Linked DNA regions of Homo sapiens. The protein of the gene in region 1 purifies or fractionates together with the protein of each later gene. This does not show direct contact. Each region holds a gene or a part of one and is shown in the gene's direction. Other genes may lie near its edges.

The links.
Region 2: the proteins of TRAF3IP3 (region 1) and RANBP2 purify together in Homo sapiens (affinity purification with mass spectrometry; 2 studies listed by BioGRID and IntAct, with this or other methods). This does not show direct contact.
Region 3: the proteins of TRAF3IP3 (region 1) and RGPD8 purify together in Homo sapiens (affinity purification with mass spectrometry; 2 studies listed by BioGRID and IntAct, with this or other methods). This does not show direct contact.
Region 4: the proteins of TRAF3IP3 (region 1) and RGPD5 purify together in Homo sapiens (affinity purification with mass spectrometry, with the first as the bait; 2 studies listed by BioGRID). This does not show direct contact.
Region 5: the proteins of TRAF3IP3 (region 1) and STRIP2 purify together in Homo sapiens (affinity purification with mass spectrometry; 3 studies listed by BioGRID and IntAct, with this or other methods). This does not show direct contact.
Region 6: the proteins of TRAF3IP3 (region 1) and PPP2R1B purify together in Homo sapiens (co-immunoprecipitation; 3 studies listed by BioGRID and IntAct, with this or other methods). This does not show direct contact.
Region 7: the proteins of TRAF3IP3 (region 1) and FGFR1OP2 purify together in Homo sapiens (affinity purification with mass spectrometry; 3 studies listed by BioGRID and IntAct, with this or other methods). This does not show direct contact.

The regions. Positions count from the first base shown.
Region 1 is NC_000001.11:209,775,986-209,780,421, forward strand, and holds part of TRAF3IP3 (TRAF3-interacting JNK-activating modulator), read left to right. Parts: coding exon of another isoform or gene 1-139; intron 140-1,366; coding exon 1,367-1,502; intron 1,503-2,125; coding exon 2,126-2,188; intron 2,189-3,222; exon of another isoform or gene 3,223-3,329; coding exon 3,330-3,389; coding exon of another isoform or gene 3,390-3,418; exon of another isoform or gene 3,419-3,445; coding exon of another isoform or gene 3,446-3,468; exon of another isoform or gene 3,469-4,436. UniProt on the Homo sapiens protein: Adapter protein that plays essential roles in both innate and adaptive immunity. Plays a crucial role in the regulation of thymocyte development.
Region 2 is NC_000002.12:108,757,005-108,761,440, forward strand, and holds part of RANBP2 (E3 SUMO-protein ligase RanBP2), read left to right. Parts: intron 1-1,408; coding exon 1,409-1,544; intron 1,545-2,940; coding exon of another isoform or gene 2,941-3,053; exon of another isoform or gene 3,054-3,109; intron 3,110-4,436. UniProt on the Homo sapiens protein: E3 SUMO-protein ligase which facilitates SUMO1 and SUMO2 conjugation by UBE2I. Involved in transport factor (Ran-GTP, karyopherin)-mediated protein import via the F-G repeat-containing domain which acts as a docking site for substrates.
Region 3 is NC_000002.12:112,423,068-112,427,503, reverse strand, and holds part of RGPD8 (RANBP2-like and GRIP domain-containing protein 8), read left to right. Parts: intron 1-3,196; coding exon 3,197-3,264; intron 3,265-4,436.
Region 4 is NC_000002.12:109,828,086-109,832,521, forward strand, and holds part of RGPD5 (RANBP2-like and GRIP domain-containing protein 5/6), read left to right. Parts: coding exon 1-63; intron 64-3,231; coding exon 3,232-3,367; intron 3,368-4,436.
Region 5 is NC_000007.14:129,437,190-129,441,625, forward strand, and holds part of STRIP2 (striatin-interacting protein 2), read left to right. Parts: intron 1-2,832; coding exon 2,833-2,902; intron 2,903-4,436. UniProt on the Homo sapiens protein: Plays a role in the regulation of cell morphology and cytoskeletal organization. Required in the control of cell shape. Calmodulin-binding scaffolding protein which is the center of the striatin-interacting phosphatase and kinase (STRIPAK) complexes.
Region 6 is NC_000011.10:111,745,047-111,749,482, reverse strand, and holds part of PPP2R1B (serine/threonine-protein phosphatase 2A 65 kDa regulatory subunit A beta isoform), read left to right. Parts: intron 1-1,468; coding exon 1,469-1,529; intron 1,530-4,436. UniProt on the Homo sapiens protein: The PR65 subunit of protein phosphatase 2A serves as a scaffolding molecule to coordinate the assembly of the catalytic subunit and a variable regulatory B subunit.
Region 7 is NC_000012.12:26,958,036-26,962,471, forward strand, and holds part of FGFR1OP2 (FGFR1 oncogene partner 2), read left to right. Parts: intron 1-2,479; coding exon 2,480-2,593; coding exon of another isoform or gene 2,594-2,602; exon of another isoform or gene 2,603-2,716; intron 2,717-4,436. UniProt on the Homo sapiens protein: May be involved in wound healing pathway.

The DNA.
Region 1 (4,436 bases):
ATGAAAAGAACTGGCTGGAATATTCATCAGCCTACTAATGTCATCTCCCAACCCACTCTCCAAACTCCATCCCAAAAAAGCATCCAGTTCAGAATTGCCCACTGTTGGCAAAGAAAGAATGTCACTAATTTATTTACAGGTGAGTATTAACACTTTCTGCCAATGTGTATTTTAAGCAATTACATTTAGCAATTACAATTAGATTCTTGGCATCCTCAAGGGTTCCATCATCTTCAATCTGTCCTAAGCCTCAGTTTCCCCATCTCTAAAATGAGGATAATAGTACCTACATCATAAGGTGGTTCTGAGTATTAAGTAAGATGATCCATGTAAAGCACTTAGCACAATGCCTGGCACACAAAAACACTCAGTAAATATTAGCTATTATTTTGCATAGATTTATTTACCTGGTTTGGAATTTTGAGGATCCACCTCAAAAGCTGATCTTTGTAATTTTCCTGAAGCAGGGCTCAGAACAGCCCACTTGATAAGAGACAGAGTATGTGAGTCTTATCAAAGGAGTGAACCCAGCTGGTCACTCTGCGTGGTATCCACAGCTCAACCTTTGTTGTTTTCTTCTTCCCATCACCTATAAGGCAACTCCTATGAAGATTTTTGTGAGGGGTTTTTTAACTTTAAATCTTTGTGGAAAAAAAAAGACCCTAACCAAAAAAAAAACTGATACTGCCAGAAGTAGAAAAAAGAGAAAATGAAAACATCCAGAAAACTAATGACTTTGTATTCCTTAATTTGGTGATTTACCAAAGTGTCAAGACATGACTCCCACACCAATGACAACCACTTACATTTCCCCTAGAATGGCAGATTTTTTAACGTACTGGGTTTCCTAAAGCAATTCTTATTTTATATATTCTAATTTATGTACATGAATGTGTCACTTAGACCTGTCACTAGGGATGGTTTAGAAAATAAACTTACACTGCACATGCCTCAGTCCACTTCAAAACTACTGGCAAATGCCTGTAGTCCCAGCTACTCAGAAGGCTAAGATGGGAGGATTGCTTGAGCCCAAGAGGTCGAGGCTGCAATGTGCTATGATGGCACCACTGCACTCCAGTCTGGGTGACAAAGTGAGACCCCATCTCTAAAAATAAAAATAAATAAATAAAAGACGCGAGTTCCTTGTGAATATCAAAAGTCTAATCTGCTGTTATAAATATGAGGAACAAAGCAAAGGGAAGAAATAGGAAAAAAGAAAGACTTCTCTATTTTCTCATCTCCCTAACATTCCTTCTATCTCTAAAATTCCAGACTTTTCTACATTTTCCTCTTCCATGGTACCCGCCCCCCAACCTCCACCCCAACACTGACCTCCTTCTATATTGGCCCTTCCTCCTCCTTACAGGGAGCAGATAGCAGGGACTTACAGATGAACCAGGCCCTGCGATTTTTGGAAAATGAGCACCAGCAACTGCAGGCCAAGATTGAATGCCTGCAAGGGGACAGAGACCTGTGCAGCTTGGATACCCAGGACCTACAAGGTACTCTTCTCCTTGGAGGCCTTGAGTGCATGGCAGCCATGGCCAAGTGAGCTAAGAAAAAAGAAACTGAATTAAGAGAAAGGCTTCAGCCTTTTATTTGTTTGCTTGATTGGTTGATTGGCTTTATAATCTCATTTTACCTTGAGGGAGAGGCAGGACTGTTTTAATCATCCAAAATTGAAAATTAATTTCACTGTAGTAGATAGAGTATCTTGTTGTCTGAGCTCTCTTTTTTAGCCCATCCCTCTGGGCCAGATCACAGCTGCTCCCACATCAGTCACATATGTCAAGGCCACAGTCCTAATTTGAAAGGGAAAGGTCAGTTGAAACACAAGGCATAGAGAAAGTCTCTCAGTCACATCCTCTGTGTCCGCTGATAGAGAGGACTAGATAGTGTGTAAACACAAGCCTCAATGCAACCCAACATTGTTGATGCACAAAAACCTGAGGTACTTGGCTTCTGGTTTACCTCTTCAGAACTGGGACACGAAGATAGAGCAACTTCCAATAGACACACGTTAAAGACCATGACAAGACAGCATCTATTACTAATTTCCATCCTAAGTACTGAGTTCATTAAGTCTTGGGTTCCTTTATTTTGGCTTGCATTATTGCATTTTCAGATCAACTAAAAAGGTCAGAGGCAGAGAAACTCACCCTGGTGACCAGAGTACAGCAGTTGCAGGGTAAGTTCGCTTTCCAGATTCTGAAAGTCCACAGGGTTTTCCTGGGGTCCTGGCCCACAAAAGGCACCCAGAGTAGGGACTAAGGGCCCAGTCTTTGGCATATGCTCTAACTCTGTGCACTTTCAGACCCTCTTCTTGTAAAGTGAGGTCATTTACATAGCTCTCCATAAATTATGTGTTAGCCTCTGTTCTTTTTTTTCTACTGTTCTCCTTCCATGCCAATGACACCACTTACATTTCCCCTAGAACTGCAGATTTTTTTTAAATACTGGGTTTCCTAAAGCAGTTCTTATTTTATATATTCTAATTTATGTACATGAATGTGTCACATAGACCTGTCATTAGAGATGGTTTAGAAAATAAGCTTACACTATACGTGCCTCAATCCACTTCAAAACTACATATTGGGCCCAAAGAGGAAAAGGGACTTCTCAGAAGAAAAGCAGTTTCTGAAAAGCTGGAGAACCTGACTCAATTAATACAGCTGCTGGTTGCCCACCACTTTAACCTCTGACACCTGATAGAGAAGCTTCATGAAAGCAGCAATGATTATTAAGAGAGCAAAGCAACCACAGGGAAAAGGGAAAATCTTCAAGCAAAGACTTGAAGATAGAGACATGGTAGGGGGAGATATAAGGATGCTATATTCATAGCAAAGTACCACAGACTGGGTGCCTTGAAGAACAGAAATGTATTGTCTCACAGTTCTGGAGACTAGAAATCCAAGATGTCAGCAGGGTTGTTTCCTTCTGAGGGCGTTTAGGGAAAGATCTATCCCAGGGCTCTTTCCTTGGCTTTGTAGATGGCCGTCTTCTCTCTGTGTCTCTTCACATTGTCTTTCCCATGAACATATCTGTGTCCATATTTCCCCTTCTTATAAGGACACCAGTGATATTAGATTGGGGCCCACCTGAATGACCCCATTTTAACTTGATTATCTTTTAAAGAATCTATCTCCAAATAAGGTCATTATTTAAGGTACTGAGGGTTAGGACTTCAACATATATATTCTGGGGGACAAAATTCAACACACAGCAGATGGGAACATATTTAATAACCAAGGTTCTAAGCAAAGTTCTGAAAAGAAAACTTTTTGTAGTAAATATGCTAGCATAGACAAGTTCCTTGTGTTTTCCAACAGGTTTGCTTCAAAATCAATCCTTACAGCTTCAAGAACAGGAGAAACTCTTAACAAAGAAAGGTCAGCAAATTTATTACCACAAATTCTAAGATATTGCTCTTCTCTTACCTGCCTAGAGGCAGCGGGATGGACTACATGACCTCCTGGAGTCCCAGCCAGTTCTGGGAGTCTGTTAAGTCCGGGATGTGTGGGAGCTTTTTAAGGACTGATCATTGGCTCTGAGGACACTTCAACTAGTTAGCCTTCTATCTTGAGGTATATAAACTGTGAAAAAGGGTTTCTATTCTCTCTGAAAGCACATGTCTGTGTTGAACATTTCAATAAATTTATTTTGAACTCAGGATTTCATGTCAATTTTTACACACTTGATTTTCCAAATCACATCCAACTCCCCAGCCCCAAACCACATAGCAGTCCAGAGTCAACTCACTGTTAGCCCTAGAGAGTCTACTGTCCATGTTTCCTGAGAATTCACTGTGTATACAGAGGGGCAATAGCTCCTCACCTGTCCACTACACACGACCTTTTGTTTTCTCTTCACAATCATTGGGCATAATATAATAGATAAGGCAGAAATTTTTATGCTCACAGAGTATGGATAAGAACATGAAAGTCTATGGTGACACAAACTAACAACACAGCTATAACAACAATCCAAAACTTCTGACTCCTAGTCCATGCTCTTTTCACCAAGACTAAGACTGCAGGGTGGCTAAAAAACCATCTTTAACCATATGAAGATAAATTTTAGGATATGACTGCCATCTTCACAACTTTCAAATGAGGACATCAGGGAAAAGGGATTGTATTAAAGCATTTACCAAACTTATTTGACAAACTAGGAAGAATGTGACATACAACCAATGAAATTCAATTAAGAAGTATTCACTAAAACTATCTAGCACTAGATAAGACTGGGGATACAAAGAAAAGATCCCAATCTTGCCCTCAAGGAGCTCAGATTCCAGCTGTCTGTCCAAGCTTAGCAGGGGCCTACTGGAAGTTAACCTTTATGTCAGAGAATGCCATCAGTCTAGCCAAGAGCACGCCCTCCCAAGTTCCCTCCCCTCTCCCCACTCCTAGTGGTTTCACCCTCAGGGCCCTTCC
Region 2 (4,436 bases), on another chromosome or scaffold:
GTTTTGGACCTCATGGTTAGGTCTTTCTGGGAAATTTTTAATTGAAACACTTGTAGAAAAAGAAAGCAGACATGCTAGATCTGTCCCTGACCTCACTTGTTAGAACTGGTCGGATTCCTGGGCTGATACAGAGAAGTTTGAAACTTTTCAAAATTTACCTGTTTTCTGATACCACTACAATTTCTTTGGAAAAAGAATTTCCTGTTAAGTGTCTGTTTTGTAAGGGGACATTTTGTAGGTTCTAGGGTTGGGTATGGTGCTGTCATTTAGTTTTCTTCAGCAGAGATGAGGTAGCCACATAGCTACACTAGACGGCATTGTATCTATCTGCCATCTTGTCAAGGCAGCAGAGTTGTGTTAAGAAAACATTTTTGGAGTCAGATCTGGTTCAAATTCCAGCTGTTATTCCCTGCATCCGTTTCTCTCATTTTAAGATAGGAGCTAATATTGTTTACCTAACAGTGTAGATAGTATAAAAATTAAGAGTTTAAGTGCATTGGACGTATTATTATATACATAATAAATTCTCTGCAGCTACTACTTTTTTCCCTTTCCTGGTGGAGCATTTGAACATCACCTTGAGAATTAGTTGTATTTTGTTTCAGCATGGGGTTAAGTGAAAAGCTAATTTGGGGAGGTAACGCGGAATGTCAGGTAGTCCAGATTGCAGTGCAGAAAGAACACACTGAAAGGATGGTCAGTGTAATGTTAGAGGACTGTGAAAGTTGAGGAAAGAAGTTTAGTTTGTAGATACTTGTTTTTTTGAGCAGGGAATTGTCTTGGCTGGAGGTGAACGTCAGAAAGGTTAATGTAGGCAAGTGTAGAATGGAAATGAAGGTGTGATCATTTAGGAGGTTATTTGTTTAGGTGAGAGTTAATAAATTAGGTTTTGTATTAATAAATGAAAATGGGAGCAGATAAATTTTTAACAAATTAAGAATCATATTTTAAAATCAGCACCAGGTACCTAGAACTCACTGGCAAATAGAAACTTTCAAAAGATATAATCAGGTCCGGGCGTGGTGGGTCACACCTATAATCCCAGCACTTTGGGAGGCTGAGGTGGTGGGTCACTTGAGGTCAGGAGTTCAAGACTAGCCTGGCAAACATGGTGAAACCCCATCTCTACTATTACACAAAAAATTAGCCAGGCGTGCTGGCTGACGCCTGTAATCCGAGCTACTCAGGGCGCTGAAGTGGGAGAATTGCTTGAGCCCAGGAGGTGGAGGTTGCGGTGAGCCAAGATTGTGCCATTGCACTCCAGCCTGGACGACAGATCGAGACACCATCTCAAAAAAAAAAAAAAAAATCAGTTATTTAAATTTAAAAGAGTAAGTTTCCCCAGCACTGTTTCTGTCATGATATAATTAAATGTTTAAAATTATTTGATTTTTTTTTCTTCCAATAGAAAGAAATGCAGGAGTTGAAACTAAATAGCAGTAACTCAGCATCCCCTCATCGTTGGCCCACAGAGAATTATGGACCAGACTCAGTGCCTGATGGATATCAGGGGTCACAGACATTTCATGGGGCTCCACTAACAGGTGAGCTGGCAAGTGGATAATCGCATATTTTAGTAAAACTACTTTACTTCCCTCTTTTAAGTAGATAACGTGTGAAATCACCTTGTTTATATATGTTTGTTAATATACATGTCAACGTCTGTTTATATGTGACTTCAAAAGCTGTATTTGGTGTTACGGAGATTTTTATAATCCCAAGCAGAAAAAACGAGCCGTATGTGATCACGTGTATATAAAGGCTTAAAGAACACTTAATCCACACCTCAGATGAGCTGAGATGAGATTATTCCTTAAATTGAAAAATGTTAATGAATAGAGTTATGCACTAAGAAATGCTTAATTAAGAACCTACACCTCTGGGGAATTATTTTGATGATAATGATGAGAGGCAGGACGTTATATAGGAAATCTTACTTAATTTGAAATATTATGGTTATATAAAGAAAGAAAAGGAGTTTGGACCTGAATCATACTGGGTTTTTAAGTTCTGCTCTATCACTTACTATAATAGCTGTGTAAGATAACCTGTCTGAAACGTGGAGATAATACTTGCCTTACATAATTACTATGAGCATTTGTGTATGTGCAGGTGGGCGTGGGTGTGTATCAGACATTTATTAGAGTATACAGTAAACAGTTAATGAACTAAGGTTACTAATAGTGTTTACTGTGGGTTGGCTATGTGCAAAAGTGCTTTGTGAATGTAATTTTATTTAATTACAGTAACTTAGAATGGCCGGTACCATTATTAATCCCTTTTTTATAAATAAGGAAATTAAAGAAAGGTTAGGTAACTTACTCATTATTATACAGCTAGTTATTGATAGAGCTGAGATTCACACTCCGGTGGTGTAACTCCAAAGCACTTGCCAGTATAATACATTGCTCCCAGGCAGCGAGAAATAACAAAATTGTTCCTTTTACGTACGACAGACTTCTGAAATGGTAGTAGTAGTAGTGCCCTTTTTTTTTCTCTTTTTAGCCCAGGAAAGATTTAGAATAAAATCTAGTTTAGATGAGCACATTTGTGTGATGGTTCATATAGTTAAGGCAACCCCACTAGCCTTTTGTGATAGTATCTTCTCAACACAAGCAAAATAACAGAAAATCTTTGTGAAATCAAGCTTATTAAATGTCATAAGTCATAGATAAGTATATGAAATGTCTAACGTTCAAACCTTGTTTTCTTAAAACCTTACACATCATATAGGTCCTTGTAAGAGGATAAACAAACCGGCTAGCCTTTCCTGGGGCTTTTTTAGTGATGTGTGCAGTCAGTTATTTGGTGCCTTGTGGGTCATGATTTCCATTTCTTCTGTGTACAGGCATAAAAGATCTTCTGTTCTTATACAAGCATGTAAATCCAACATTCTCATTGTCTCATTTTATTCTTGCAATGACCCTGTGAAATGTGTAGAAGCAGCACATCCTCATTTTACAATTGAGAAACATGGAGACTCCAAATGGATTATTTACAGGTTCACAAAACAGCTTTGTGGCACTGAAAGGGCGAGAGCCAAGATCTCCTGATTTCTGTTCCTGTGTTCATAGATTCTTTTTCCTTAATAAAAGTAAACATATATCAAGATGGTCCTTGTTTTTTAAAAATAAGATGATTAAAATTAAAGATTAATGAGCTCATAGGAGATACTCAGAAGTACTGAACAGGGTGAAGAAAACTAAAAGCTAACCACCTTATTAACATTTCCTATATTTGAGAGCATTTCCTTCTAGTTCTTTCTCTATACATATAGTATTTTTTATGAGATTGTTACCATGTTACTATGTTGTGTGTAGATGAGCTAGCCTGTTTTTTAAATGTTACTTTAGTTCTGAGCATTTTTAAACTTAAATGTTTTTTGAACATTAATGAGTTCATGGTATCCCATCACATGGAAGTACTGTAAATTCTGTTCCTTTATTTATGTTGTTTCTGGTTTATGCCATTACAAATTCTAGGACACTGTCCTAGTTTTATAGGGTATTCAGAATATTCAGTTTATGCTCTTACCACTAGTATCTGATAGTGCCATTTTCGCACTTTGCTAATGCTGACTTACTGGTTTATAAAATCCTTTGCCAATTTGTAGGAACAAAAGTGATATCAATTTTTAAGTTTTTTTAATACTAGTCATGGTCAACAATTCATGCAAATGGCAGTTGGTAGTTTTGCCATCTTCAACGTGGGTACCTCCCAGTTGTTTGGTTTCTTGGTAAAACTCACACAAAACAGATGGAGAAGAGTTTGTATATCAACATGAATGTTAATGTGATTTTTTTAAAGCCCGCGAACACATTTGTGTTCCTTGTGATCTCCTTTGCATGAATTTGTCAGGTAATTTTTTTGACCTGAACATTCTCATAATAGCTTCAGTTTGCCCAATGCAACCTCATCATTTTGCGGATTTTTCAAGGCTCACTTCAAAAACATGTTCCTTGAGGCCTATTAACATTTCTTTCCTAAATTGTCTATTCATATGGTGCTTTTAAAAGTTAGATTACTTTTAGTAGATTTATTAGAGCCGCACAGTTTAGAGTCAGTAGTCAATTAAAGTCCCTACTTAAACTTCAGACTAAGATTTTTTTTTTATTTAATATTTTATTTTTTCTTTTTGCTTTCATGCAGACAGACATCTTGCAAGACTTTAAGATTCTTGGGCCATTTCTGTCAGGTTGTTCTGTGTTCTGTGCCTGCTTCCTCCCCATAGTAATTTCAAAATAGCTATCCTCACCTCTGTAAGGTTTCCAAAATCAAACTTGGGCTTCTGGCTAGCCTTTTCTAGGTCTTGATTTTTCAGTGCTTTCCAGAGGCAATTGTTTGGAACCTCTTGGCACAGTTTCTGTTTCTTTTTCCATGTACAGGCATAAAAGGTCTTTTGGTTGTTTTCTGGTAAAACTATCATAAAACAGTTC
Region 3 (4,436 bases), on another chromosome or scaffold:
CTTGATATTTGGCAGCTTAAGTGAATTCAGGTATTTGCTTATAGTGACATCTGCTGTCATGTAAAGAAGTACTGCTTGCATCAGATATTGTCCTGTTTACATAACATGGGCTGTGCTCCTTTCTAGCTGTATATCTTTAAACAAGGCATTTGTCTGCTTGAGCTTCAGTTCCCTTGTAAAGTGAGCAGGTTAGAGGCAAAAGATCATATAGAAGAATAATTTGTAAAGTTGTTTAATTATCTTAAGATTGTCTACTTTAATAACATAGTTGGAAGCAAAGAAGGTAATGGAATTATTTTTCTATTATGTTTTAACATAGTTGGAAGCAAAGAAGGTAATGGAATTATTTTTCTATTATGTTTTGGCATTGTACCTTGAATCTATTTCTTCATTTTGAAAAGGGGGAACTGGCCGGGCTCGGTGGCTGATGCCTGTAATCCCAGCACTTTGGGAGGCGGAAGAAGTCAGATCACAAGGTCGAGAGATCGACACCATCTTGGCCAACATGGTGAAACCCCATCTCTACTGAAAATACAAAAATTAGCTGGGCATGGTGGCGTGCGCCTGTAGTCCCAGCTTGTACCCGGGACGCAGAGGTTGCAGTGAGCTGAGATCGAGCCACCGCACTCCAGCCTGGCGACAGAGCAAGACTCCATCTCAAAAAAAAAAAAAAAAAGGAAGGGGGGAACAGGACTTGTTCCTTTATGTGCTGTCCTGACTGTTGTGTATTATTTTTGTTAAGATTGCTATAGTTCTTTTTTTTTTTGAGACGGAGTCTTGCTCTGTCGCCAGTGCTGGGATTGCAGGTGTTAGCCTGGCATTGAGCAAGGTTTTGTAATTTAAGCATACAAGTCTCTCACCTCCTTGTTTACATTTATTCCCAGGCATTTTTTTCTTTTAGATGCGATTGTAAATGGAATTGCTTTCTTAATTTCATTTTCTGATTGTTCGTTGCTGGTACAGTAGTCCCTTCTTATCCACAGTATTGCCTTACGTGGTTTTACTTACCTGCGTCACCCGTGGTCCAAAAATATTGAATGGAAGATTATATAAATAAACATTTCATGAGTTTTAAATTGCAAACAGGTCTGAATAACATGATAAAAATCTCACGGCCTCCTGCTCCGTCCTACCCAGGACACGAATCATCCCTTTGTCCAACATATTCATGCTGTATGTGCTCCCCACCCGCTAGTTACATACTAGCCACCTCAGTTATCAGATCAGTTGTTGGAGTATTGCAGTGCTTGTGTTCAAGTGACCTTTATTTTATTTAAAATGGCACCAAAGAGCAAGAATAGCGATGCTGGCAGTTCACATATGCCAGAGAGAAGCCATATAGTGCTTCCTTTAAGTGAAGAGGTGAGTTTTTGACTTAGGAAAGAAAAAAGATCATATACTGGGGTTGCTGAGATCTATGGTAAGAACAAATCTTTTGTCCATGAAATTGTGAAGAAGGAAAAAGAAATTTGTGCTAGTTTTGTTGTGACACCCCAAACTGCAAAAGTTACAGCCACAGTGTGTGATAAGTGCTTAGTTGAGATGGACAAGACATTAAATTTGTGGGTGGAGGACACAAACAGGAAACATGTTTCGATTGATGGCAACCTGGTTTGGTACTATTCATCGTTTTGGACATTCACTGGGGTCTTGGAATTTCAAAAATAAGATGTTTGAGTAGCTGTATACTCTATCACATGGATGGAACATACTCTGGTTGTATCAGCATTTTTTTTTTTTTTTTTTTGAGATGGAATCATTCTGTTGCCCAGGTTGGAGTTCAGTGGTGCGATCTTGGCCCACTGCAGCCTCTGCCTCCCGGGTTCAAGTGATTCTTTGCCTCAGCCTCCCAAGCAGCGGGGATTACAGGCGTGTGCCACCATGCCCAGCTAATTTTTGTATTTTTAGTAGAAAGGAGGTTTCTGTATGTTGGCCAGGCTGGTCTCGAACTCTTGGCTTCAAGTGATCCACCCGCCTCAGTCTCCGAAAGTGCTGGGATTACAGGTGTGAGCCACCGCACCCAGCCTGGTGTGCATCAGCATTTTGGACTTTGGAGTTTATGTAACCAAGGATCCAGGCTGTGGACCTCGTTTATTACTTGAAGAATTCAATATTTATTTCTGCCTTTTTGACTCCTTGACTGTAAAATACTGATCTGATCTGTAGAGAGAACAGTACATGGACCCGGGAATCCTCAGTGCCTTAATAGATCCTAAGTACTTATTTATTCTTTCCCATAGAGGCTTACACATGGTAGGAGAAGAGATTTCTGGAATACCTTTCCTCCCCAAAGAAAGCTGGTTTCTTTTGTTTGTTAAGTGAGAGAGTGGTACCACAGGGTTTCCGAGATTTCCAAGGCTGATGAAAATTCTTAACTTCTGTTGTCTGCTTGTCTTGCTTTCTTGAATTTATTTTTTGTATGTTATGTATTTATTATTTAGAGAGAGGATCTCCCTGTGTCACCCAGGCTGGAGTGCAGTGTCACAGTCATAACTCACGGCAGTGTCAACCTCCTGGGCTCAAGTGATTCTCCTTCCTTGGCCTCCTGAGTAGCTAGGAACACAGGCATGCTCCACTATGCCTGGCTATTTTTTTCCCCCTGGAGACAGGATCTTGTTGTGTTGCACAGGCTGGTTTCAAACTCTTGGCCTCAAAGCTAGCCTCCCACCTTGGTCTCTGAAAGTGCTAGAATTAAATAGAATTAAAGGTGTGACCAACTGCACCCAGCTTATTTATGATGATGATGATGATGATGATGATGATGATGTTTGGGAGATGGAGTCTCTGTCGCCCAGGCTGGAGTGCAATGGCACGATCTCAGCTGACTGCAACCTCTGGCTCACTGCAACCTCCACCTCCTGGGTTCAACTGATTTTTGTGCCTTAGCCTCCTGAGTAGCTGGGATTACAGGCACCCGCCATCATGCCTGGCTAATTTTTCTATTTTTGTAGAGACGGGGTTTCACCATGTTAGCCAGGCTGGTCTCAAACTCCTGACCTCAGGTGATCCGCCCACTTCGGCCTCCCAAAGTGCTGGGATTACAGGCATGAGCCGCTGCACCCAGCTCTATTTTTTGTTTTGTGGTAGGAAATTATAAAACATGGAATTATGCATTTGTCAGGCTTTAACTACTTTTGAAAAAATGTTGGAAAATATTTCTGTATGAAACATAAAACAACTTTTAATTTTTTTTTAGAAGTCAATGAAAGGATTCTATTTTGCAAAGCTGTATTATGAAGCTAAAGAATATGATCTTGCTAAAAAGTAAGTACAAACCGTAACATGTATTCTTTTTTTTAAAATCAATGCCTTTTCTCATTTTCTTCTTTGAAATAGGTAAAAATATGTTCTTAGTAGTTCTTCCTAAGTGTATTCTGGAATAAGGGATTTATCACTCAGACTGATGCTAAGGACCAGCCTAGATTCCATTGAGATTGAAACTGCAATTAGTGTTTTCTGCATGCTGCTGCTTTATACCAAGGGCAAGAAATTGTTTGGCTTAAAACACTTTTTCTAAAAATTGTCTTCTGTTGGAGTAAAAGAGGACCATGCCTATATCTTAATTTGTTTTTGGTTAGATATCTGATACCTTAATCAGATGGAAAATAGCAATGAATAAAAAACTAAACTGTAATTGTAAGGCAGGAGAATAGCTTGTATAAAAGATCTTTAATTGACACAATATGTGATGCTGTAAGGCTCTATCCTAGGGATAAGAAGCTTGGTGATTCTGATTTCCTGGCTGGGAGTGGATTAAAGCAGGAAATTAAGAGGGAGGCAGGCTTTTTTTTTTTTTTAGGCAGTATCTGTCTCTCTTGCTCCGGCTGGAGTGCAGCAGCTGGCTCCATCTTTGCTCACTGTAACCTCTGCCTTCTGGGCTCAAGCGATCTTCCCACCTCAGCGCCCCAAGTAGCTGGGGATACAGATGCGCACCACCACGTGGACCTGGCTAAGGTTTGCATTTTTTGGTAGAGACAGGTGTCACTATGTTGCCCAGGCTAGTCTTGAACTTCTGAGCACAGCAGTCTGCCTGCCTCGGCCTCCCATAGTGTTGGGACTACAGGTGTGTGTTACTGCTCCCAGCTGGGAGGCAGGCTTTTAAAGGCATCCAAAGGAAGATGGAAATGCTGGTAAGAAAGGAAAATGGTGGTACATAAATTATGTAACTAGCAGCACTGTGACTGTTAACTCTTGTACCTTTTTACTGTGAGACTTTAATCCCTTAGTTTAGGTCTGGCCTAATTTCTCTGATCGTAATACTGTCAAGGAACCTAGAGGATATTTACTTATTTTAGTTGTTACTTGATTTGAGAAATGGAAATTTCCTGTATTTGGTACTGTAATTAGTAATTTTTCTTCTGTTCGATTTTAGCTGGATATAGTACTGTTAGAAATTACTTTCTTGCTTAAAGGGTAAATGTATTTCCCTTTGTTGT
Region 4 (4,436 bases), on another chromosome or scaffold:
CGATGGACAGAAGATCGGAATTCTTTACTGAATATGATTTGCCAACAAGTAGAGGCCATTAAGGTAAGTCACTTAATTTCTCTAGCTGTACTTTTTATTCCAAGATTCCTTCCCTGGCTACTCTCTCACTTTTTTTCTGAAGCTGGTCAGAATGTCCCCTTGCCATCCAAATAGTATGGCAAGGGGACATTTTGGTCTTTTTTTTTTTTTTTTAAGACAAGGGTCTTGTTCTGTTGTGCAGGCTGGAGTACAGTGGTATGATCACAGCTTACTGCGGCTTCAACCTCCTAGCTCAAGAGAGCCTCTTGGCTCAGCCTGCCACGAAGCCAGGACTACAGACAGTCACATGCCACCAGGCCCAGCTAATTGTTGTATTTTTTGTAGAGATGGGATTTTGCCATGTTGCCCAGGGTGGCCTTGAACTCCTGGCTCAAACAATCCTCCTGCTTCAGCCTCCCAAAGTGCTGGGATTGCAGGTGTGAGCCACTGTGCCCAGCCTACATACCTCGGTCTTGACCCTTTACCATATTTTGTTTTGTTTTGTTTTGAGATGGAGTCTCACTCTGTTGCCCAGTCTGGAGTGCAATGGTGTGATCTTGGCTCACTGCAACCTCCACCTCCCAGGTTCAAGTGACTCTCCTGCCTCAGCCTCCCGAGTAGCTGGGATTACAGGCACCCGCCACCAGGCCCAGCTAATTTTTGTATTTTTAGTAGACACAGAGTTTCACCATGTTGGCCAGGCTGGTTTTGAACTTCTGACCTCAGGTGATCTGCCCACCTTGGCCTCCCAAAGTGCTGGGATTACAGGTGTAAACCACCGCACCCAGCCCTTTACCATATTTTTGAAAGTACTTTATGTGTCTCTCTCCTCATCTTCCACAAAATTTGAGACCTTCAAAGGTAGAAACTGTTTTATTTAAAATATAAGAGTTCCTGACACAGAGAAGGTTCCCGAGTGATTGAAGTGCTACAATGTACTAATCATACTCTGGTCTATGAGTTCATTCCCAGATTAGCTGTGGATTACATGTGTTTCAAATGTATAGCTAGGAATCGAAAAGTGGTCTGAGCTTCAAAAAGTCTTACTATATTTTAATACTTCCATATGAATTTGACTTAATTATGTAAGGAAATAGTTATGTATATATATCTTATTTTAACAATAGGGTTCAAAGGAGCTTGACTTTTTTGGAATTGGAAATAAAAGTAGGTTCTTTCATGTTTATCAAGCAAGAACTAAATTACTCATACTGCTAAAGTTACATCAAGGATATGCTGATGTGTGGCGATTATTACAGTGTGATCAGCAGCATTTGCAAATTAAGAGAATACTATTTGGTGGGGAAGACATTTTTGAATTTGCACAAAAATTTTGAATGTTAATTCTGTGTAGTCGTGGCCTATGACAATTACATACAATTTTGACTTAACATACAGGTTTCAGGCTCCCAACATTGTATTCTGTGGAAGTATAGTGGAGCACTAGTCCATGAGCTTGAAAAGCTTGGTACTAGTACTGACTCTGCCATTAATTAATGATCTTGGGCCAGTCACTTCCTTTGTGACTGTTTGGCTTCTTATCTTTAAAATGAGAGAATTATTGAAGCCAGTTCTCATCACACTGAATGTTAAAAATTACAGTTACAGCAGTGATTGCAAATTCAAAGCTCTGGTGCGGATACCAACAGTGACTATAAAGTTTTCTAGGTGATTCCACTAGTTTCTTATTTCTTGGATGTGTATGTGTAGCATCTGGACTAGGCACTGTAGATGGATGAATGGGGGAAATTTTATTTAGCTTGAAAATTGAGATAGTTTTGGACCTCATGGTTAGGTCTTTCTGGGAAATTTTTAATTGAAACACTTGTAGAAACAGAAAGCAGACATGCTAGATCTGTCCCTGACCTCACTTGTTAGAACTGATCGGATTCCTGGGCTGATACAGAGAAGTTTGAAACTTTTCAAAATTTACCTGTTTTCTGATACCACTACAATTTCTTTGGAAAAAGAATTTCCTGTTAAGTGTCTGTTTTGTAAGGGGACATTTTGTAGGTTCTAGGGTGTTGGGTATGGTGCTGTCATTTAGTTTTCTTCAGCAGAGATCAAGTAGCCACATAGCTACACTAGACGGCATTGGATCTATCTGCCATCTTGTCAAGGCAGCAGAGTTGTGTTAAGAAAACATTTTTGGAGTCAGATGTGTTTCAAATTCCAGCTGTTATTCCCTGCATCCGTTTCTCTCATTTTAAGATAGGAGCTAATATTGTTTACCTAACAGTGTAGATGGTGTAAAAATTAAGAGTTTAAGTGCATTGGACGTATTATTATATACATAATAAATTCTCTGCAGCTACTACTTTTTTCCCTTTCCTGGTGGAGCATTTGAACATCACCTTGAGAATTAGTTGTATTTTGTTTGAACACAGGGTTAAGTGAAAAGCTAATTTGGGGAGGTGATTTGGAATGTCAGGTAGTCCAGGTTGCAGTGTAGAAAGAACACACTGAAAGGATGGTCAGTGTAATGTTAGAGGACTGTGAAAGTTGGGGAAAGAAGTTTAGTTTGTAGGTACTTGTTTTTTTGAGCAGGGAATTGTCTTGGCTGGAGGTGAACGTCAGAAAGGTTAATGTAGGCAAGTGTAGAATGGAAATGAAGGTGTGATCATTTAGGAGGTTATTTGTTTAGGTGAGAGAGTTAATGAATTAGGTTTTGTATTAACGAATGAAAATGGGAGCAGATAAATTTTTAACAAATTAAGAATCATATTTTAAAATCAGCACCAGGTACCTAGAACTCTTTGGCAAATAGAAACTTTCAAAAGATATAATCAGGTCCGGGCGTGGTGGGTCACACCTATAATCCCAGCACTTTGGGAGGCTGAGGTGGTGGATCACTTGAGGTCAGGAGTTCAAGACTAGCCTGGCAAACATGGTGAAACCCCATCTCTACTATTATACCAAAAATTAGCCGGGCGTGCTGGCTGACGCCTGTAATCCCAGCTACTCGGGAGGCTGAGGTGGGAGAATTGCTTGAGCCCAGGAGGTGGAGGTTGCGGTGAGCCAAGATTGTGCCATTGCACTCCAGCCTGGACGACAGATCGAGACACCATCTCAAAAAAGAAAAAAAGAAAAAATCAGTTATTTAAATTTAAAAGAGTAAGTTTCCCCAGCACTGTTTCTGGCATGATATAATTAAATGATTAAAATTATTTGATTTTTTTTTTCTTCCAATAGAAAGAAATGCAGGAGTTGAAACTAAATAGCAGTAAGTCAGCATCCCGTCATCGTTGGCCCACAGAGAATTATGGACCAGACTCGGTGCCTGATGGATATCAGGGGTCACAGACATTTCATGGGGCTCCACTAACAGGTGAGCTGGCAAGTGGATAATCGCATATTTTAGTAAAACTACTTTACTTCCCTCTTTTAAGTAGATAACGTGTGAAATCACCTTGTTTATATATGTTTGTTAATATACATGTCAACGTCTGTTTATATGTGACTTCAAAAGCTGTATTAGGTGTTACGGAGATTTTTATAATCCCAAGCAGAAAAAACGAGCCGTATGTGATCACGTGTATATAAAGGCTTAAAGAACACTTAATCCACACCTCAGATGAGCTGAGATGAGATTATTCCTTAAATTGCAAAATGTTATTGAATAGAGTTATGCACTAAGAAATGCTTAATTAAGAACCTACACCTCTGGGGAATTATTTTGATGATAATGATGAGAGGCAGGACGTTATATAGGAAATCTTACTTAATTTGAAATATTATGGTTATATAAAGAAAGAAAAGGAGTTTGGACCTGAATCATACTGGGTTTTTAAGTTCTGCTCTATCACTTACTATAATAGCTGTGTAAGTTAACCTGTCTGAAATGTGGAGATAATACTTGCCTTACATAATTACTATGAGCATTTGTGTATGTGCAGGTGGGCGTGGGTGTGTATCAGACATTTATTAGAGTATACAGTAAACAGTTAATGAACTAAGGTTACTAATAGTGTTTACTGTGGGTTGGCTGTGTGCAAAAGTGCTGTGTGAATGTAATTTGATTTAATTACAGTAACTTAGAATGGCCGGTACCATTATTAATCCCTTTTTTATAAATAAGGAAATGGATAAAGAAAGGTTAGGTAACTTACTCATTATTATACAGCTAGTTATTGATAGAGCCGAGATTCACACTCCAGTGGTGTAACTCCAAAGCACTTGCCAGTATAATACATTGCTCCCAGGCAGCCAGAAATAACAAAATTGTTCCTTTTACGTACGACAGACTTCTGAAATGGTAGTAGTAGTGCCCTTTTTTTTTTTCTCTTTTTAGCCCAGGAAAGATTTAGAAAAAAATCTAGTTTAGATGAGCACATTTGTGTGATGGTTCCTATAGTTAAGGCAACCCCACTAGCCTTTTGTGATAGTATCTTCTCAAC
Region 5 (4,436 bases), on another chromosome or scaffold:
CACTTTGGGAGACTGAGGCAGGTGGGTAGCTTCAGCCAGGAATTCGAGACAAGCCTGGGAAATGTAGGCAGACCCCATCTCTACAAATAAATAAAAAATAAAAAAGATTTAGCCAGGCATGATGGTGCGCGCCTGTTGTCCCAGCTGCTCAGGAGGCTGAATCACTTAAGTCTAGGAGGTTGAGGCCGCAGTGAGCTGTGATCATGCCACTGCACTCCAGCCTGGGTGAGAGGAAGACCCTGTCTTAAAAAAAAAAAGAAAAGAAAGAGAATAATAGAAAATATCACTGCATCACATGCAGTAAAGGTAAATATTTTGTTAAACTTTTGTTCCAGTTTGTGTGTGTGTGTGTGTGTGCTGGGACGTAATGTAAAAGGTATCATTTTTCCAAAAAGTTTGAAAAACAATTTTTAATGGCTGTTCTTTATTCTGAGATTCTGTCTTTCATTTTTTGAATTTTTTAAAGTTTTTAAAGTCCTTACCTATCAGAATAAAACAGCAACAACCCTATGTCATTTGCCACTCTCCACCTTTTTCTTTTTCCCTACTGTTCCTTTTAATCCAAAAGTTTGGAAATCTTTGCTATAGTGGATTAAAACATGATTCGCCTTGTTTTTTTTTGTTTTTTTTTTTTTTGACAGAGTCTCACTCTGTCACCCAGGCTGGAGTGCAGTGGCGCAAACTCGGCTCACTGCAAGCTCTGCCTCCCGGGTTCACGCCATTCTCCTGCCTCAGCCTCCCGAGTAGCTGGGACTACAGGCGTCCGCCACCATGCTCGGCTAATTTTTTGTATTTTTAGTGGAGACGGGGTTTCACCGTGTTAGCCAGGATGGTCTCGATCTCCTGACCTCGTAATCCGCCCACCTCGGCCTCCCAAAGTGTTGGGATTACAGGCGTGAGCCACTGCGCCCGGCCAATTTGCTTTGTTGACAGTATAAATTGGCATAATGTTTTGGGGGAGCAACTTATATACAAAGAGACTTTAAAATGTTCATAAGATTTGATTCATTAATTTTCTTTATAAAAATCTATGCTTAGGAAATATCCTAAATATAGAAAAAAGTGTAAGTCTATTACAGTTTGTTGCATATAATAAAGGAAAATTAAAAACCATTTAAATATTCAATAAGGAACTAGTTAAGTAAACAAATAAATGTACATCCATTTATACAACCATTTAAACTAATAGTCATAATAATGTGAGAAGAATGCCTTTATAGTATAATATTAAAATCATAGAGTGACCACTCACATAGTGCTACGAAGTGCTAGGCCGTGTGCCTTTCCTATATTAACTCATTTAGTCCTTAAAATAACCCTATGAAGTAAGTCCTGTTATTATCCTCATTTTACAGATGGGAAAACTGAGCAGGTCATTTTCCAACAATTCGCTGACACCAACTGGATGTCCTACAGTTCAATTCGATTCTGACACTAACTACCTAGAATTAGCACAGACCCCCAAGTTAAGGGCTCAGTCCTACAAGGCCCTACGTTAGACACCAGCCATAGGTGGGATCCCCAAGCTATCTACACTTCAGCCTGGCCAACTACAAATTAAGCGGTTATCATGATCTTCCTTTCAGGTTCCATAATTTGCTAGAATAACTCACAGGATTCAGGAAAGCATGTACTTAGAATTATAATTTTATTATAAAGGATATGACTCAGAAACAGCTAAATGGAAGAGATGCGAAGGACGAAGTATGGGTTTGGGGTGATGCAGAGTTTCCTTATCTTCCCTGGGCAGCACTCTCCTAGCACATCTGTTTGTTCCCCAACCCAAAAGCTGCCTGAACCTAGTTGTTTCTGGGTTTTCCTATGGTGTTTCATTACCTAGACATAATTAAACTATTGGCCACATGACTGAACTTAATCTGTAGTACCCCTCCCCTCCCTGGATGTGGGGGTGGTGCTGAAAGTTAAACCCTCTAATCATGTGCTCCGTCTTTCCTAACATAAGTCACCTCATGAGCATAAATTCTGGTAAAGCTGACAGTGACTCATTATGAATAACTGACACTCCTATCACTCAGGAACTTCTAAGAGTTTCAGGAGCTCTGTACCAGGAACCAGGGGCAAAGAACAGTATATTTTTTATGTCACGCTGAGGCACAGAGAGGTTAACTTGTCCAAGATCAAATAGTATGTGACAGAGCTGAGATTGAAAATTTTAAAAATTCATATGTATGAACATATACAGGAAGGAAATATCCCAAAATGTTTAAGTTAGAAGATGGGATTATATTAAAACATATTTACTAGGATTATAAATTTATACATACAACGTCATGGGAAATGTAATCTTTACTACAACTTGGAGTGGAGATGTTGCATCATTTGACAATCCTAAAGTTGCAGAATATTAGAGCTAAAGAACCTCTTTAAAAATAAGGAACTATGATCCACAGCATGAGACTTGATCTATATCATACAGTGGGTTGATGACAGAACTGAAGCTAGAATCCAGTTCTCTTTGTTTCTGTCTGTCTCAATTTTATATAAATCAGCTAGATGCTCCTCTGGTCTGTGTTCATGTAGATTAGATATGGACACAGACCATAGCTTTCATATATGTTTGAGATCCTGGCCCTTTATTCAGACTTTCCGATTTTGTATAGGAATCCTCAGCCCCTCCCCACACTGAGACTCAAGTTTTGGCTTGGCGTAGGGTACCTCTGAGATGAAAGACCCAAATAGGACTCTCCTAACTGTCTCCCTGATCTAACCTTGGCCTCCATGAGGGGAAGAAGATAAATAAGGGTACAGTCTTCCCTTGGCAACCCCTTTTTCCAAGTTATCCCAGTTACCAACAAAATTTCTCTGTTACAGGGCTCTGTGGACTGTCCCACTCTGGAGTTTGAGTATGGAGATGCAGATGGGCATGCAGCCGAGTTGTCAGGTATGAGGTAGATGGGTCAGTAGCTAGTGGAAGAATGGCCAGGAGGAGAGGGAAGGGGCCTGTGATCTCCCTGGAAGCTTGTCTGTTCTCACCAAGTGGCTGTTGAACAAAGGCTGTTCTCCACATTCCTTTTCCTCTCCATCCAAGTGGTAAATATCTCTTTGTTTGTCTTCACATTTCCTTCTGTGATTCTCCTTGGCTATGGTATTCTTCATTCTGTCATTCTATCACTCTTTCCTGCTCACTCTTCTTTATTCTCTTTGAAAATAACTGATTTGGTGCACTCTCAAATCAGTTTTCTCTCCATCTTCTCCATATTCCTTCTCTTTTTCTCTTCCTGTCACCCATATCTTTGCCTGCCTACTTCTTTCTGCTGCCCTCTTTCTATCCCATGCCATCTCTTTTTCCTTTGTCTCCTCTACCTCCATCTTTTCCTTCTTCCTCTCGCAACTGCCCCTTATTAAAATCTCAGCAAAGTCCGAGGAAAAACTATAGTCAACTGGCCAGCTGAGCAAGGCTGGACATGTCACCTGCATCCATCATAGTAGAGTTCTGCTTGGATGTTTATGAGCTGGGGTTAAGTAATTCCATTCTTCTTTCAGTGCTGGCCTGCTTGTCTCTGTCTGGATTTTTAGCTTAGGGTAAATGTGATCTCCTCACATTAAGGGCCTCCATGTTACATGTGCTATGAATGCCAGTTATTAATAAACAAGCTTTGGGTGGAGATGTGTGAAATTTAAATATTCTGTCACATGGAAGTGATACTTTGAGGCATGCTTTTTCAGAGAAAAGAGACAAACAATTTTAAAGACGTTCTTGTGCATGAGCACAGAGAATAAATTTTGTGATGAGTGACAGAGAAATAGAGAGCTAAGTTTAATAACCAACAAAGGATTAGAATTCATAATAGGAATATGATATAAATATATATATATTTTAAAGAGAGGAGAGAGATGAGCAACCCAACAAAGAAATGGGCAAAGAATATAAATGGGAATTTATAGAAGAAAAAGCCAAATGGTCAATAAATATATGAGAAGATATTGAACTTTATTAGTATATGGGGAAAAGCAAATTAAAATAATAAAATATTATTTCACAATCATCAGAGTGCAAAACTTAAAAGCCTGGGGTTGGTGAGGGTGCAGAGAAATTAGTACTTTTATGCACTGCTAGACATGGGGGGAGCAGAGTATAAAATTGAAAAGCATTTTGCTTATATCTTGCAAAGTTGAAGATGTGCACATATTGTGACCCAACAAGTCTACTCCTAGATATCCACTCTAAAGAAAATTACACTTGGGCACAAGAAAATGTACAAAGATGTTTATTGCAGCCTTGTTTATCAGTGTAAAAAGTTGGAAACAACCTACAATGCTCATCAGTAGGGAAATGGATAAACTATAGCATATTAGTGCAGTAGGCTATTGAATAGCCATTAAAATAATAATTGATCTAAATCAATATATTTATTTTTTATTTTTTTATTTTTGAGACAGAGTCTGGCTCTGTTGCTTACGCTTGAGTGGCACAC
Region 6 (4,436 bases), on another chromosome or scaffold:
TGAAACCCCATCTCTACTATACAAAAAATTTAGCCGGGTGTGGTGGTGGGTGCCTGTTACTTGGGAGGCTTCTTGGGAGGCTGAGGCAGGAGAATTGCTTGAACCCAGGAGGCGGAGGTTGTAGTGAGCTGACATTGCACCACTGTACTCCAGCCTGGGCGACAGAGAGAGATTCCGTCTCGACAACAACAACAACAACAACAACAAACTGGAAAATAAAAGTTAATTAAAACTGAAGGAAAATTCTCAACCTGAAATGAAAAAGAAATCTTGGCTGACGTAATCTAAGTGTATGCCAAAATTTGTTCATTATGATCTTTTAGTACAAAGCAATTTTGGGCCAGGTGCGGTGGCTCATGCCTGTAATCCCAGCACTTTGGGAGGCTGAGGCGGACGGATCATCTGAGTCAGGAGTTAAGAGACCAGCCTGGCCAACATGGTGAAACCCTGTCTCTACTAAAAATACAAAATTAGCTGGGCATGTGCTGCATATCTGTAATCCCAGCTACTTGAGAGGCTGAGGCAGGAGAATCACTTGAACCCGGGAGGTGGAGGTTGCAGTGAGCTGAGATTGTGCCACTGTACTCCAGCCTGGGCAATAGAGTGAGACTCCATCTCAAAAAAAAAAAGCTATTTTGTCTTATTCAATCACTATTTTCAAAGCACTGACACATTATATTACCTCTCTTTTTTTAAAATATAGAATCACCAGTCAGGAACTTCTTAGAGTTCAAAGAAGCAAGACTGTAAATGTGTAGACCCCAGAAGGGAGGCACTAGGAAAGTGTGTCACAGCATTCTCCATGTGGTGTGGAAGCCCCGGGGTTAGAGGACTGTGTAAATCTGCTCCCGGAGCCCATCCCCAGCCTGCACTGAAGTGGCCACCTGTTGACAGTCGGGAGGAACAGGGCTGGGAGAGCAAGCCATGCCTGGGCCATATGCCCTGTAGTCCTGGGCCTGCTTTATTCTCCCTCCAGGGCTTTCTCCTGTTGTCTCGAAAATACTCTCTTTAACTGGGGATATCTCTATGTCTTGAGGTCAGTTGCTTTATCCTTAAGGATTTGTCATAATAGTAACCAAAAAGGGAAGACGATTGAGAATTAGTAATATTACTGACAGGTGTTTTCCTGGGTAATTCATTTTTACAGGTAATCCAGATTTGCTTGGCAGACCATACACAGTGCATTCTTCCTGCTCTTTTGCAGTGTTGTGGCTGACTTCTGGCCACCCTGTTCTCTTTTACCTAGCAGGGCCTATGCCAGCTCACGTATGCTTTTTTTTTGTTTATGATTTCCGTCCAATAAATAGATTTATGGTTTGTTTGTAATTCCTGTGGTGTTTCTATCTCTTATTTGTTTATTTGGAAACAAGTTTTTTTAGCCTTCAGGTAACCTTGGTGTAATGTAAATAGACCATCTTTATTTCTGAATTTTGGCAATGTATGTTAATGGAATCTTCTGTATCTGTAGGGTGTGGAATTCTTTGATGAAAAGCTGAATTCTTTATGTATGGCTTGGCTCGTGGACCATGGTGAGTAGATAAAAACAGATTATTGAAAGCCCATATATCCATGATTTTCATACATTTCCTTTTAGAAAGGAATCTCAGTCTGACCAGATATTTTGCCTTAATATTGTAGGAATGAAGAAAGGCTCTAATTAAAGTTTAATCTTCTGAATATAAATTTGACGTTTCTACCAATTTTTTGTATCTTCGATTTTATTTTCTCCATTAAACAATTTATTTGCATTATTTTCTTACTCAATCTATTACATTATCTTCAGACCATCTCTTTTATATATCTACTTACTCCTCCCTTATCTGAAGATCCTCTTTTTGACCATCCTGTAATTGGTGTCTTCAGCAGCTATACACTAGGTTGTATGGAGATTGGAATCAGATGAAAGGCCTGGGTGGGAGAAATGGCTACTTGGCTTTTTGAGGTGACATAGAAGAGGAGATCTACAGTGAGACAGTAGAGGATTCTTAGGTGTGGGAAACACTAGCTTTGCCATAGGGAGAGAGAGGGCCTGGATTTCTGGTTTGGGTGAAAGGAAGGCTTACTGCTTGTACTCTCACTGCTGCTGCTACAGTGCTAGGAGAGGGTGAGCTCAGGGCAGGTCAGATAGGACAGCAGGAATGAGCAAGTGACTTCCTGGTGAGGCTTCAGGTAGAGGTATATGTGTGTATCCCCTTGTGTGCCAGGCAGCAGTGGGTGACAGATGTACCGTCTCTGCCAGATCCCAGGTCCAGACTTGACAGCTTCAGTGTTGTCTTAGACCTGTTTCGATGAGTGTGAGTGCCCCTATGGGGTCATGTGACATTGTCCTTGAGCTTTGTTTCCATGTTTTGGTGGATATAATAGATAACCTGAGTCAGTTCCACAGTATCTTTTATATACTTGATATATGTATTTAGTGTATCTCTTTGTTCATCTATGGGTGCTTATGCCTGGAAATTTGGGAGGAATGAGGATATTTGTGTCTGCTTATACGTGTGGGTGGTTTTGTTAAAGGCATGTTTGCATCATATGGAGGATCATATGGTTAAGAGTGTGAAGAGGAAGGATGTGAAAAAATATGTGAAAATGTATAAGGGCTTATATATGTGGGTATTTCCAGTGTTTTCAAACTGGATTGTAGACTTCTTTCTCTTTTTCTTCTCTAAAGTTATCTTATTGTGGCCTATTTATTTCTTTTTAAATAAAATTAAAATTTGGCAAATCATAGGAAAGAAATACCACTTTTAAAAAAAATGTTTATGTTATATCTGATAAATATTTGACGTTACTGGGAATGGTGCATCCTAGCAAATCATTCTGTGCTTTTTTAAATTTTATTTTACTTTAAGTTCTAGGATACATGCATAGAACATGCAAGTTTGTTATGTTACATAGATATACATGTGCCATGGTGGTTTGCCGCATCTATCAACCTGTCGTCTAGGTTTTAAGCCCCACATGCATTAGGTATTTGTTCTAATGCTCTCCCTCCCCTCGCCCCTCACCCCCTGATAGGCCTCAGTGTGTGATGTTCCCTTCCCTGTATTCATGTGTTCTGATTGTTCAACTCCCACTTATTAGTGAGAACATGTACTGTTTGGTTTTCTGTTCCCGCGTTAATTTGCTGAGAATGATGGCTTCTAGCTTCATCCATGTCCCTGCAAAGGACATGAACTCATTCCTTTTTTATGGCCGCATAGTATTCCGTGGTGTATATGTGCCACATTTTCTTTATCCAGTCTGTCATTGATGGGCATTTGGGTTGGCCTCAAGTCATTCTATGCTTTCTTTAAAAGTTGGCATTTTAGATTAAGATGGTGTTTTATTTTGAGGAATTTTTAAAGTTCTAATATTCCACAAAGAATTAAATTCCTGGCACCCTTTCTCTGTAAGATTGTCTTCTCTATGCAACTTGATTACTCCTTCCTCTTTTCGGATTTTCTCTTTCAGTTTGGGAGCAGGAGAAACCCTTGTTTATTTCACTGCAGCAGCATGCTGAAGTGGGGACTGCAAGAGTTCCATGAACCAATGAAATAACAGCTCTGAAATTGTTTTGTACTTAATCACAGGAGCTTTTTTGCTTTTGCATTTCAGATAAGTGTTATATAATGATCACTGGATCAGTTAGAGTTTTTGAAACTTTTCCCCTAGTTAGGTAACTACTAAAAGAACATTGTGAAAATTCCAGAGAAGTATAAGGAAGAAAGTATCACTCACCTATATTCCTGTGGTTGAGTAGACAGTTTTGATCAGAGGGAGGAATGTAGAAGGGAAATTTATTTATTTATTATAGGAGAAAGGAGAAGGTATCAGTTATTGAGCATAGATAGACATTCAAAGAAACCTTGCAGGTCAGCCAGGCCTTGAGAGGAGATGGGGAGAGAGAAAGAGACAGAAATAGACAAAAGAAAACAGGCAGAACTCTGGAATGGTTTGCATTCTTCTGAAAACAGTCAGAGGAACCAAGAACATAGTAGGCATCTGGCCAAGTAGAGTTCAGTGCAGTTAAGGTCTTGGTCAAGGCTATGCATGTGTGTTCCCCAGTCTCTGGTTTTTCTGGCAGTAGAGATCCCTTCCTATGGTAATGGCATTATGATAAAAATCTAAAGCGTGTTAAAAAAAATAGTAATTTGCTGAGCATGGTGGCTCATGCCTGTAATCCCAGCACTTTGGGAGGCTGAGGCGGGTGGATGACTTGAAGTTAGGAGTTCGAGACCAGCCTGGCCAACATGGTGAAACCCTGTCTCTACTAAAAACACAAAAATTAGCTGGATGTGTTGGCGGGCGCCTGTAATCCCAGCTACTCAGGAGGCTGAGGCAGGAGAGTTGCTTGAACCCAGGAGGCGGAGGTTGCAGTGAGCCGAGATCTCGCCACTGCACTCCAGCCTGAGAGACAGAGTGAGGCTCTGTCTCAAAAAAAAAAAAAAAAAAAAAAT
Region 7 (4,436 bases), on another chromosome or scaffold:
TATTTTTGTAGGGCTATATACTTTTAAGAAATATTTCTTAAAGGGCTGGGCATGGTGGCTTACGCCTATAATCCCAGCACTTTGGGAGGCCAAGGCAGGAGGATCACTTGAGGCCAGAAGTTCAAGACCAGCCTGGGCAACATAGCATGACTCCATCTCTTCAAAAAGTAAAAAAATTAGCCGGGTGTGGTAGCACATGCCTGCAGTCCTAGCTTCTCAGGAGGCTGAGGTGGATAGACCACTTCAGCTCAGGAGTTTGAGGTTACATTGAGCTACGATCATGCCATTGCACTCCCATCTAGACAACCGAGTGAGACCCTGTCTCTTAAAAAACAGAAATTTTTTTAAGAAACATTTTTTCTAATAAATTTGTGTATTGACTTCTCTTGCAAAAACAAAAAATAATGGAAACCTTTTTTAAAATCTGAAAGCAGTTTAATGTAGATTTTTCTTAAGACTGTTTTCTGAATAAGGCTAATTCATCCAGACTATAAATGATCTTGTTTATTATAATGGAAAAAACATGGGGTTCAGGAGAAGAACCAACATAGTAAAATTTTGCTCCCTTGCCCCAGTATTGTATACCAGTTGACATCATTTTTTAGAAACAAAGCTGAAGTAGTTAGAAATTAGTGTTTTACCTGCTGTTCATCCCTTTGTCATCCCTGTGTCTATTCCCTTTGGTATGTCCCCATATTTTATGGCATATTTTATGGCAACTGCTATGAAGACAAGTAGAATAATCCTTTCTCACATATTTATTTTAAACTGAGTTTTAGTTGCTGATATGAAATAAAAATAATAAACTAGATTGTGGAAACTAGACTGTTACCTGTATTAGATAATGGTGAGCTGACTATTATTATTACCAATATTATTTAAGAAACAGTGATTATGAGCCTTCTTTTCCCCATTTGTTACAACAGAAATAGGAAAGGACATATTTTCATATTTATCTATTATTGAAACACATTTTAGATTCTTTAAAATACTTCTTCCATTTTGGTGCTTGTACGTGTTTTTAACTTATTAGTAATTAATTCTATTAGAATTAAATACCTATCAAATAGCTCTTTATATGCCTTTATTATATTAGAAAACCTAATGATAGGTACCTCTTGTGTCAACCAGTAAAATAATAAATTAAATTAAAAATTTGTGTTTAATGTTTTCTAATTATGCTATTCATCTCCTAATCAAATGGCAATCCAGGGATGTTTAAGTGGTGATCTTTTGAATACAAAATTTAACTATTGTTAATGAGACCATTCTAAAATCATTTAAATTTAAAGGTATAATAATAACTATAGTAACTAAGACTTTTTAAAGGCACTAAAAGGAGTTGACTTAATATTATTTGTAAGATAAATATAATCTTGAGAATTTCTAAAAGGTTTGTATGTTTTATAACCTAAAAATAAAATGTTAAAGATCTAAAGCGAAGAATACCATTACAAAAAAAGTGCTTAGAATAGGATAACTATAGCTTGCAGGTCCCATCTGGTAGCAACTATGACAGAAGCAAATGTTTCCTAAAATATATTAGATTTTACTATTCACCAGAGCTGGTTTATTAATTAGTAAGGTTAAACATTTCCTAAGATAGCTGTAAGCCATCCTTTTTTATTATGTAGATTGAATTCTTCATCTAAGTTCAGATGATCCTTGCCTCCCATAAAATGACTATTCAGTTATTTGTTATTAATTTTCACTAATACATATTAATGTTTGTGATTTTGATTTTTCCCAAAAAGGAGACACTTCGACTTAATTAAACAAACATTAATACTGGCACTGGGTTAGTTATGGGAAATAATAAGATGAATGTACAAGCTTGCAGTATAGTGGGAGATACAGACACAAACATAACAATCTACTATAAGGTAGGGCGTGATGAATCCCAAAGTAGATGAATTGTTACTGGAACGCTAGAGGGAACAATATTAACTGTCATAAGGAAAATCTGGAAAGGTAACAAGGAAGGGAAGAAAGTCTGTCTCAGTCCAGCCTTGAATTAATTATGGGCAGGTAGGTAAACAAGCAGAAGTGGGTGGGTGGGCAGAGAAACTTGTATAATAAAAGCACAAAAAGTATGGTATTGTAGGGTGTGTTTAGGTACTAGTGCTCTGATATGCCTAAACACAAAAGTAATTTTACAACACATTTAGAGCTAAGAAACAGAGTTACACATAACAGCATTTTGGATTGGAGTAAGAGATCCTTTTGAGACTGTTATAATACAGAACTTTGCCCTTAACTAGAAGTTTTTGAGCACATACTTAAAAAATCAGTAGAAAGTTTGAGAGCTCATTTTTACCCAAATACTAATTTTCATGTTATTTTTGAACAGATGCCTTTTTGGAAATCTTAAAAAAGCAAACATTTCAAACAGTTGGCTAACACGCATGAACTAACACTCATTCAGTTTTTAAATTACGGATGATATCCGTATTAACATTATAATGACTCTATACTACAGATTGACATGGTACATCGTAACAAGTCCGAAGGATTCTTCCTTGATGCATCTCGACACATCCTTGAAGCACCTCAACATGGACTGGAGAGAAGGCACTTGGAAGCAAATCAGAATGTACACTAAATAAACAGTCAACTTTTGGGGTGTGGATGGAAGGGGGGTCCATTTTAAAAGTGCTTTTACATTGAATTTCCCTCCCAGATTAGATCAGCAAATAAATGAAATTTATTAAAAGAATGTTGTGTCTTTAATAGCCATGCTGTTCAGTGTAGAAACTTTAAATCTCTCATTAATTTTCTGTGTATTGTATCATGTACAGCCTGTTAGATATTTGCAGGTTTTATAGGTTATTCAGTCCAACGCTTTATTTATTTGCTCTTGTTAGTTGTTGCTGTGAAACAGTCATTTCCTTTCTGGACATCAAAGATATTTTCTTGGCATTAATTTTAAACTGATTTCATAAGGTCAAAGTATTAAATGTTTTAATTCAGATTGTGGATAGTTTGTAGTCCTTTGATTTTGCAAATGAAATTAAAATGCCTTTGTTTAGATGTTAGGATTAAGTATAGTAGTGCTCTCTCCATTGTGTCTTAATTTTTTTTTAACTCACTTGTGGCAGGTCTTTATTGAATAAAGGAGGAATAAACCTAGACAGGGAGTTAGAAATGAAAGACATTTCAAGACAGTTCAAGGGTTATGTTGGTGACACTTCTTGTCTTCCAGACAGTTTTGAAAGCACAGATCTTGCCTCTTGTGCTTGTTAAAAAATCTGTGATACTTCTCTGAAGATTTTATAATTAAATAAGTGAACCATTACCATGACCTTTTATAAAAGTGCTGCCCTATTTGAAGTATTGGGTTTTTTCTCATGATGAGCTTTGTTAGACTTGGTACTGAAAAAATCAGTAGTTTTTTTCCTTCTATTTTAAAGGCAAAGAAATGCTTGCTTCAGCTAGGCATGGTGGCTCATGCCTGTAATTGGGAGGCTGAGGTGGGTGGATCACCTGACGTCAGGAATTGGAGACCAGCCTGGCCAACATGGTGAAACCCCATCTCTACTAAAAATACAAAAAGTTAGCCAGGCGTGATAGCGGGTGCCTGTAATCCCAGCTGCTCGGGAGGCTAAAGCAAGAGAATTGTTTGAACCTGGGAGTGGGAGGTTGCAGTGAGCCGAGGTCGTGCCATTGCACTCCAGCCTGGCCAACAAGAGCGAGACTCTGTCTAAAAAAAAAGAAATGCTTGCTTTCTGTGTAGTTTTTTAACTTAGGTCAGTGCCATAGGACTGACCAAATCATAAATTGAGGATGCTGTTGGTATTCAAAGTTTTTACTCATTACCCTTACTCAGTTTGCAGCTGCAATGATCTGTACTTAACCTGCTTTTACATATTATGCTTCCTTGACAATGGGAGGAATTTTAATGGTTAACTTGCAGAATATGACAGATACTTGTCTTAATATCATTCTTCCTACCATAATCTAATTCAAAACTATCCAGTAGAACTTTCTGAAATGATTGGAATGTTTTTTATCTGTGCTGTCCAGTGTGGAAGCCAGTAGCCACATGTGGCTGTTGAGCACTTGCAGTGTCACTAATGCGTTTGAGGGACTGAATTGTTAATTTTTAAAAATGTATTGATTTTAATTAAGTTTAACATTGTTTTGGACAGCACAGATTAGCCTTTTAGAGTACCTTCTTGCTGAGTACTAGCAGTGTATAGGTTTCCCCATGAAAAGGACCTACATTTTTGTTGGTTAAGAGGTTATTAAATGTGCTTTGCCAAAGATACTACCTTGTCATTTCTTCCAGCTTATTAGTTCCGTGGGTTTCTTGGAGTACTGTTAAATCCTTTTTACAAATATATATATACACAACTACTGAAGAGACTGTTTATTTGGGGAGTTATTCACTTTTATATTTAAGTCTTAGGCTTAATATGATAAAATACCTCTCAGTT